Homo sapiens: one gene and its partner. The protein of the gene in region 1 purifies or fractionates together with the protein of each later gene. This does not show direct contact. Each region holds a gene or a part of one and is shown on either strand. Other genes may lie near its edges. The genes, in order: SLC36A2 and ADPGK.

Region 1 (3,818 bases):
ATATACGTTTTCACAATTTACTGTGAGATAATATTTTATCATTGCTAGTAAACTGTCAAAATTTTACAATTACATAGGGCCCTTCCGCCTTTATGTTGTATTGCCTTATGTATCTAAACACACTGAAACACCAACAATGTTATCATCTTTGCTTTCAATAGTCATGCATAGTCCTTGTAATAAACTTACTAGGGAAAAAATAGGCTATTATATCTACTCAGATATTTACCATTTCTGTCGCTCTTTCTTTATTCTTGAAATCCCATTTCCTTCTGGCATCATTTCCCTTCAGCATGAAGAACCTTCATTAACATTTCTTTTAAAGCAGGTCTACTAGTGACAAATTATCTTCATTTTCTTGATCTGAGATTGTCTTTATTTTGCCTTTATTCCTAGAGGATATTTTTGCACAATATGGAATTCTAGGTGGACAATTTTTTTCATCATTTTGAAAATATGACTTCCTTTCTTTTTGCCCTCAGTGGTTTCTGATGAGAAATCTGCAATTGTTTGAATCCTTGTTCTCCTATGTGTTTTTCTCTGGTTGCTTTCATAACTTTTTAAAATCTTCTTTAATCAGCAGTTATACTGTATTATATTTAATATAGTTTCTTTGAGTTTGCCCTCTACGAGATTTCTTGAATCTGTAAAAGTTTGTCTTTTACCTAATTTACCTAATTTCAGCCATTATTTTTTTCAAAGGTTTTTTCTTCACCAATCTCTTTTTCTTCTCCATCGGAGATCCCAATAACCTGAATGCTAGACTTTTTGATATATAGTCATCGCTTAGCATATATAGGACATTGGTTCCAGGACCCCGCTCCCCCACCCCCCTAAACACACACACCCAGTGTATAACCAATCTGTGCCTACTCAAGTCCTGCAGGTGGCCCTGCAGAACCTGAGTATATGAAAAGTCAGCCCTCCATACATACAGGTTTTGCAGCCCATGAATACTGCAGTTTTGATGTGCATTTGGTTGAAAATATCCACCTATTTGAGGGCCTGCGCGGTTCAAACCCATGTTGTTCAAGAGTCAACTGTATATCCCACAGGTTTCTGAGGCTCTATTCATTTTTTTAAAAAAATCTCTTTGCTCTTTGTTGTTCAGATTTTGTCATTCCTGTTTATCCTCAAATTTACTGAGTTTGTTTTCTGTTATCTACATTCCGCTATCAAGCCCCTACAGTCAGTTATTTAAATTTTTCTTATTTTCCAGTTATAATATTTCCATTTGTTTCTTTTACATTGTGTCTACTTTGCTAAGAACTTGTATCTGTCCATTTATTTTAATAGCGTTCTCCCTTACTTTTTGGAGTACGGTTATATTACCTGCTTTAAAGTCTTTGCCTAATATTGCCAACATTTGAGTCATCTTAAGGTTGGCATCTGTTGTCTTTTCTCTTGAAAGTTGATGAGATTTTTCTGGTTCTTTGTAGGCTGAATAATTTTAAACTGTATCCTATGCATTTTGAATATTATTTTAGGAGACTCTTCAGAATGCTGATTTTTGGTTTTAGCAAACCATCTACCTAGTTAGATTCAGCTCATAAGTCCTTGCTCACCTTCTGTGGGCCATGGTTCCAATATCCAGTTAGTTTTCAAAGCCCATGAAGTGATATTTGGCTCTACCCTGCTCATGTGCTACACAGTGCCAATTGGCAGACAGGACTCTACACAGTAGTTCAGTTTTCAAAGCCTTTGCTTTGATGCTTCCCATCAGTTCCACATATGTACAGCTCAGGGCTGGGCCCAGGATATTATTCACAGATTTTAGGAGATTGCTTTTTCCAGTTTCCTCTTCTCTGTGTTTTCCCGCACACTCGCCAGCTCGCAGTGGGTTCTTTTTCCCATCCTCTGGCTAGAAATCTAGGCTTTTAGCCTCCTACACTGTCATGTACTTCCTGTGACCAAGTCTGCCTCTGGGGTTGAGCAATGAGTGAAAAGAGAAAGAAAAAGCACAATAGTGATTCTTTCCTGGACCAGTTTCGTGAGCAGGCAAATCATGCAGCCACATAGGGTCCAACCTTCAGAAGAATCTCACACTTAGTTTAACACTCTGCTGGAACCATCTTTCACCAAGGAACCCTGCATTTTCATTTTGTACTGGGGCCCATAAATTAGGTAGCCAGTACTGATTTCCCACACTCTTCAGACTCCTAAAGCCAATTTTCCTAGTACTTCTGTGTAGAGATAAGGATTTCTATCTCAGATTTTTAGGTGCCTGTGTGACCACTACAGCCACTGATACACCAGAATGCTGCTTAGTGACTAGGACTTGCCTTGAGGTCATGGCCTGGAGATAAAACAAAGAAACAGAAAAATAGAGATTCTCTCCACGCTCTTCATCCCACAGGGGACCCTATTCTAAGTCATCTGTCCAAAAAGAAGTTTCTCTTGGTGTTATTTTCTGTCTGTATGCACCGCATAGTTCTAAGATTTGGGTGTCCCTTGAGGTTAAAAACTAGGATGTATGGGAAGAAGAAAATCAGGAAACTCACCACCATGACAGTCATTTTTTCTTTTTGATTTCCTTCCCCATTCTGCCTGCTACTATTTACTCTTCAGGACCTGTGCATAATTGCTTTATGTATTTCATCCACGATTTTTAGTTGTATTAGTGAAAGAGATATTGTGAAGTGTGCTTACTTCATCTAGATGGAACTGGAAGCACTTTGTTTTTAGAATTTGGAATAGTCATGGACAAAAGCAGAGTGCAGCAGTTGAGCAGGTAACTTTGGAGGCAGAATGTGCTGGAATCTTGCTTTGGCCAGGGCTACTCTCTGAACTCTAATTCTCCACCTCTAAACTGATGACAATATTTGTTCAGTAAGTATTTCTTGAATGCCTATTATGTGCTTGTGATTCTTAGTATTAGTTGAAATTATCTTAAGAAGAACTCTGCTAGCCCAGTCTCCAATTTTACAGAAGAGGGAGAGCCCCAGAGAGAGAAGGTGACTTCAGTTAGATCACCAGCTAGGAACTGTGCAGATGTGAATAAAACCTAGTACGTCTGACTCTCCATCCAGGGACCTTCCCACTGTACGTCAACAGCCATTTATCTCTTTGACTGACTGATTGTGGAGAGAGAGAGAGAGAGAAAGAAAGGAAGCCAGCTACCCAGTCTGAGCAGGCCTTGTGAAAAGATCATTTTTGGCCTTGAGAATATATGCAGCAAAATTGTGTTACAGGGTGCAAGAGCTCAGGTTGGATTGTCTGCTCTCCATACAATTATTGTATAATCATCAAACATCCTCCTGAGCACCTGCTGCAACGAGACCTAATCCAGAAGAAAGTGGAAAGGCATGGGGAGGACCCAACATGACACTGCCCTCAAGCATCTTCCAAATGCCTGGAATAGAGAGAGGGTTAGGGAGTTTCAGGGCTGGAAGTTTGCATGTACGACAGAAAAGAATTCAACAGTACAAGGGAAAAGATGCTAAATTCCTTAGTAACAAATATACCCATTGCTATAGGAGTAGAAGCAGGTACTTGGACTTTGGATAACAGCCCTGGTCTACAACCTGAATCTGACACTTTCTGGTTCTGCAACTTGGGATCAGTTATCTCATTTTCAGAGCCTTGTTTTCCTCATCTGTAAAACAAGAATTATGGAGGTACCGACTTCATAGAGTTACGGTCTTCACAGTATTAAAAAATAACAACCGCCAACATTTACTAAGCCCTTAACTGTGCCATTATGGTGCTTGTGTAATTCTCTACAAAATTTGCAAAATTCAGCCACATGTGATGTCTCTCGCCTGTAATCCCAGCACTTTGGGAGGCCGATGTGGGAGGATCGCTTGAGCCCAAGAGTT
Region 2 (3,818 bases), on another chromosome or scaffold:
TAGATTAGGCATCTGGTTTCTGAGAGAATATTAAATACTTGGACATACTTTGATCCTGTGTATTTCCTGCTGTAATTTTCCCTCTGCTCAGAACTCAGACTCTTGAGTTTCTGATTCAACACATTGTTAATACACATTAAAGACTCAAGCATCTAAACAGACTAATTGGTACCTTAAAGCAGCACTTAATACTCTTCAGTGAACTACTTCCAAGTCAATTAAGAGAATCTTCTCTACTAGAGTAATTAACTTTAACATAAGATATGAACTATGTTATTTCTTGAGAATTATGCCTTTCTCCAGGTAGAAAAAAGAGTTGTAACATGTTCTGGTTCTCTTTCGGGTGCTTACTAGAATCAGTTGGGAATTAAAGAAGGATAGGGTCTGAAAATTAGGGACACAGCGTTGACGTAGGCAATTCATACTTAATGCTACACAAGTTTTTGAGTTTCTCAGCTTTAGTTTTCCCAAATGGGAAGTAAGAGTAATAGTTTTTACTGCCTGATCATTGTGGTAAGGATTAAGAGATTGGTTGGTGTGCGGAAACATTGTGAGCAGCTTGGATGAAAAGATGACCTGGCCGCACGTGGTGGCTCATGCCTGTAATCCCAGAACTTTGTGAGGCTGAAGCGGGTGGATCACAAGGTCAGGAGTTCAAGACCAGCCTGGCCAAGATGGTGAAACCCCGTCTCTACTAAAAATACAAAAATTAGCCAGGTGTGGAGGCGGGCGCCTATAATCCCAGCTACTCAGTAGGCTGAGGCAGAGAATTGCTTGAGCCTGGGAGGCGGAGGTTGCAGTGAACTGAGATTGCACCACTGCACTCCAGTCTGGGCAACAGAGCGAGACTCCGTCTCAAAAAATAATAATAATAAATAAATAAAAGAATGACCTGACTGTGGACTGGAAGGGTCTGGAATTGCTAAAGATGAGCCCCTGAGGTATTGCTGCCATGAGTTCCAGATTCGTGTCAGTTTTTTTGGCACCCACAGCAGGAACTGGGGACCTTTGTGATTCCTGGTTTGTCATTTTTCCTGGTGACTACAGAGTGGAGAGTCTTACGTCTTCAGCAAGACTTTGATGTTGTATTGGACAGCTGTGCCTCGTATGTAGTTAAGGAGACAGCACAGTTCACCGCACAAAGAGAGTGTCTCCATCCTTGGGTTTATAAGCTTCACACTTCAGTTTTTCTTTCCTATGCCTCTTCTGCATACAAAGCAGTGGACTTCCATTAAACTTTGTGAGGTGACATTTTCCTAGGTCCAAGGAGGGAGCCTAGTCTAGTGGCAGTAGCCCTGGGCTCAGCTCTCTCAACAGAAATCCATTCCCAGCTTGTCTCTGACCTCAATAGGGAAATTCCAAGGGATTTGTCCATTTTTTTTTCCACATTCTCTCTTACCAGATCTCCCCAGAGAAGCCCATTGTCAGGCTTGGGCTGGGAATCCAGTGAGTCACTACGCAGAGGTTTTGCTGACTTACTGGCTGAGGGCAGGATGATACATTGAGAAGAGATTGCTTACAGGAATGAATACAACACTTTGTGAGGAAAGAGGGGCGCTAACTACCATTACAGGCAGAATTAGATCCATTTGCATCTGCCCCCTGCATGGCCTCTCCAACGGGGCCATGAATATGCTGGAGGTGTTTGTGTCTAGCCTGGAGGAGTTTCAGCCAGACCTGGTGGTCCTTTCTGGATTGCACATGATGGAGGGACAAAGCAAGGAGCTCCAGAGGAAGAGACTCTTGGAGGTAATGGCACTGTTACAGAATTTCACAGATCTCAGCTGGTGGTTTTCTTCAGGTTCCAGCCTCTCTTGGCATCTGCTGCCTTGTTTCCTGTGGAAACAGCAAGCAGCTCTGCACGGTTCTTCTCATCCTTGCCTTGCAGAAGAGCCTGTTTATTTTTGCCTCTGTCACTTCCTGAAGAAATCAGTGTATTTTCAATACAGTGTGGCTCCTTTCTCCTAGGTTCAGTTAGGTCGTGTTTCCTAGCAGTGTCACTATTCAAGGGTTGAGTCCACGTCTTGCTCTCTGGAGAATGTCAATGTAATGTATTTTTCCCATCGTACAGAGTCTTTGTTGATTTGCAAAATGTTGGATTTGGGGTTCATACCCATATTTTTTGTTGTCATGGGCATTTAGGTCATCAGTCTGTTCTCTTATTTGCTTGTTCTTTTGTTAATTCATTCCCATGGCTATATGCCAGACACAGCATGATGCAGAAGGAATACGACAGAGGATGACACAGGCCCTGCCCTCAGCTCACAGTTTACTGCCAGAGATAGACACTTGGAAAAAGTAATTGCAGGCCGGGCATGGTGGCTCACGCCTGTAATCCCAGCACTTTGGGAGGCTAAGGCAGGCAGATCACCTGAGGTCAGGAGTTTAAGACCAGCCTGGCCAACATGGTGAAACTCCGTCTCTACTGAAAATACAAAAATTAGCCAGGCGTGGTGGCGGGTACCTGTAATCCCAGCTACTCGGGAGGCTGAGGCAGGAGAATCGCTTGAACCTGGGAGGCAGAGGTTGCAGTGAGCTGAGGTCGCGCCATTGCGCTCCAACCTGGGCAACAGAGTGAAACTCCATCTCAGAAGAAAAAAAAAAAAAAAAAAGGAAAAAAGAAAAAGGAATTGCAAAATCATGTGCCTCAGTCCTGTATTAGGGTACAGTGGTGGCCCCAGAAAGGAGGTAATCAAGTCTGCTTAGGGGTGGTAGGATTAGGAAAGGCTTCATGTTTAGGGAGGAACTAGCACTTGAACTTGGGTCTTTAAACAGTCATTCCTCTAAAGCAACTCACATAGAAGCAACTGGAGCAGCTAGATAGTCTGATCCTTTGGATCAGGTGCCCAGAAACCACTGATGGGCAGCAGGGAAGAGGAGATGCAGTGAGCTTGGCTGTTGGGAAGAAATTCAGCCTGCTTAAGTTCCAACTGAATGAAAGATGCTCAGGGCAATGCTGTGAGGAAGAATGTGCTTTAAACAATGACAGCCTATACTGTCTGCAGGGCGTGCGTGCTGCACACTGTATGCTGGTATTTGGAAGTCATGCTGCCATTCTGTACTGTCTCTCCTGTGTTTGAGAGCTCAAGTAGGGCTCTCCTGGGACTCAGGGGGAGCTAATTACCTTGAAAAAGGCATATAGCACCCATACTATGTTTCTGTTTCTTGGCTGGGTTTGGGTTTAGGTTTTTGGTTTGTTTCTTGCAGTGCCATGCTGACCTTAGGCCATTGTTGCTGGGGTCTCCTCAGCCAGAAACCAGCCTGCTTGGAGCCAAGGCTCCTGTGAGGTGCCTGAAAGTGCCCCCACAGCTAGGAGACCTAAAGCCTCTTCCTTTTCTTCCCATTGTGTTGACTGGGTTTTTCCAGGGGAGGAGTGGGGCCAGTTAAAAGCTCCCCATGCCAACCGATTCATCTTCTCTCACGACCTCTCCAACGGGGCCATGAATATGCTGGAGGTGTTTGTGTCTAGCCTGGAGGAGTTTCAGCCAGACCTGGTGGTCCTCTCTGGATTGCACATGATGGAGGGACAAAGCAAGGAGCTCCAGAGGAAGAGACTCTTGGAGGTAATGGCACTGTTACAGAATTTCACAGATCTCAGCTGGTGGTTTTCTTCAGGTTCCAGCCTCTCTTGGCATCTGCTGCCTTGTCTTAGGTCCTGGCCTCCCAGGGACATATCTTGGCAGCTGGCTGTGGAGCTTGCCTCCTGCTGCAGTGAGGCACCTCACTGTATCCCTTCAGATGTGGGCAGCAGCTTGAGTAGGACAGGGCAGAACATCTTCTTGCCTGAGCCTCTGCATCCTGTGCTAAACCGACCATGG

Evidence for each region.
Region 2: the proteins of SLC36A2 (region 1) and ADPGK purify together in Homo sapiens (affinity purification with mass spectrometry; one large-scale study listed by BioGRID and IntAct). This does not show direct contact.

Annotation. Positions count from the first base shown.
Region 1 is NC_000005.10:151,327,036-151,330,853, reverse strand, and holds part of SLC36A2 (proton-coupled amino acid transporter 2), read left to right. Parts: intron 1-3,818. UniProt on the Homo sapiens protein: Electrogenic proton/amino acid symporter with a high selectivity for the small side chains amino acids glycine, alanine and proline, where both L- and D-enantiomers are transported.
Region 2 is NC_000015.10:72,755,996-72,759,813, reverse strand, and holds part of ADPGK (ADP-dependent glucokinase isoform 4 precursor), read left to right. Parts: intron 1-1,524; coding exon of another isoform or gene 1,525-1,749; intron 1,750-3,366; coding exon 3,367-3,563; intron 3,564-3,818. UniProt on the Homo sapiens protein: Catalyzes the phosphorylation of D-glucose to D-glucose 6-phosphate using ADP as the phosphate donor. GDP and CDP can replace ADP, but with reduced efficiency.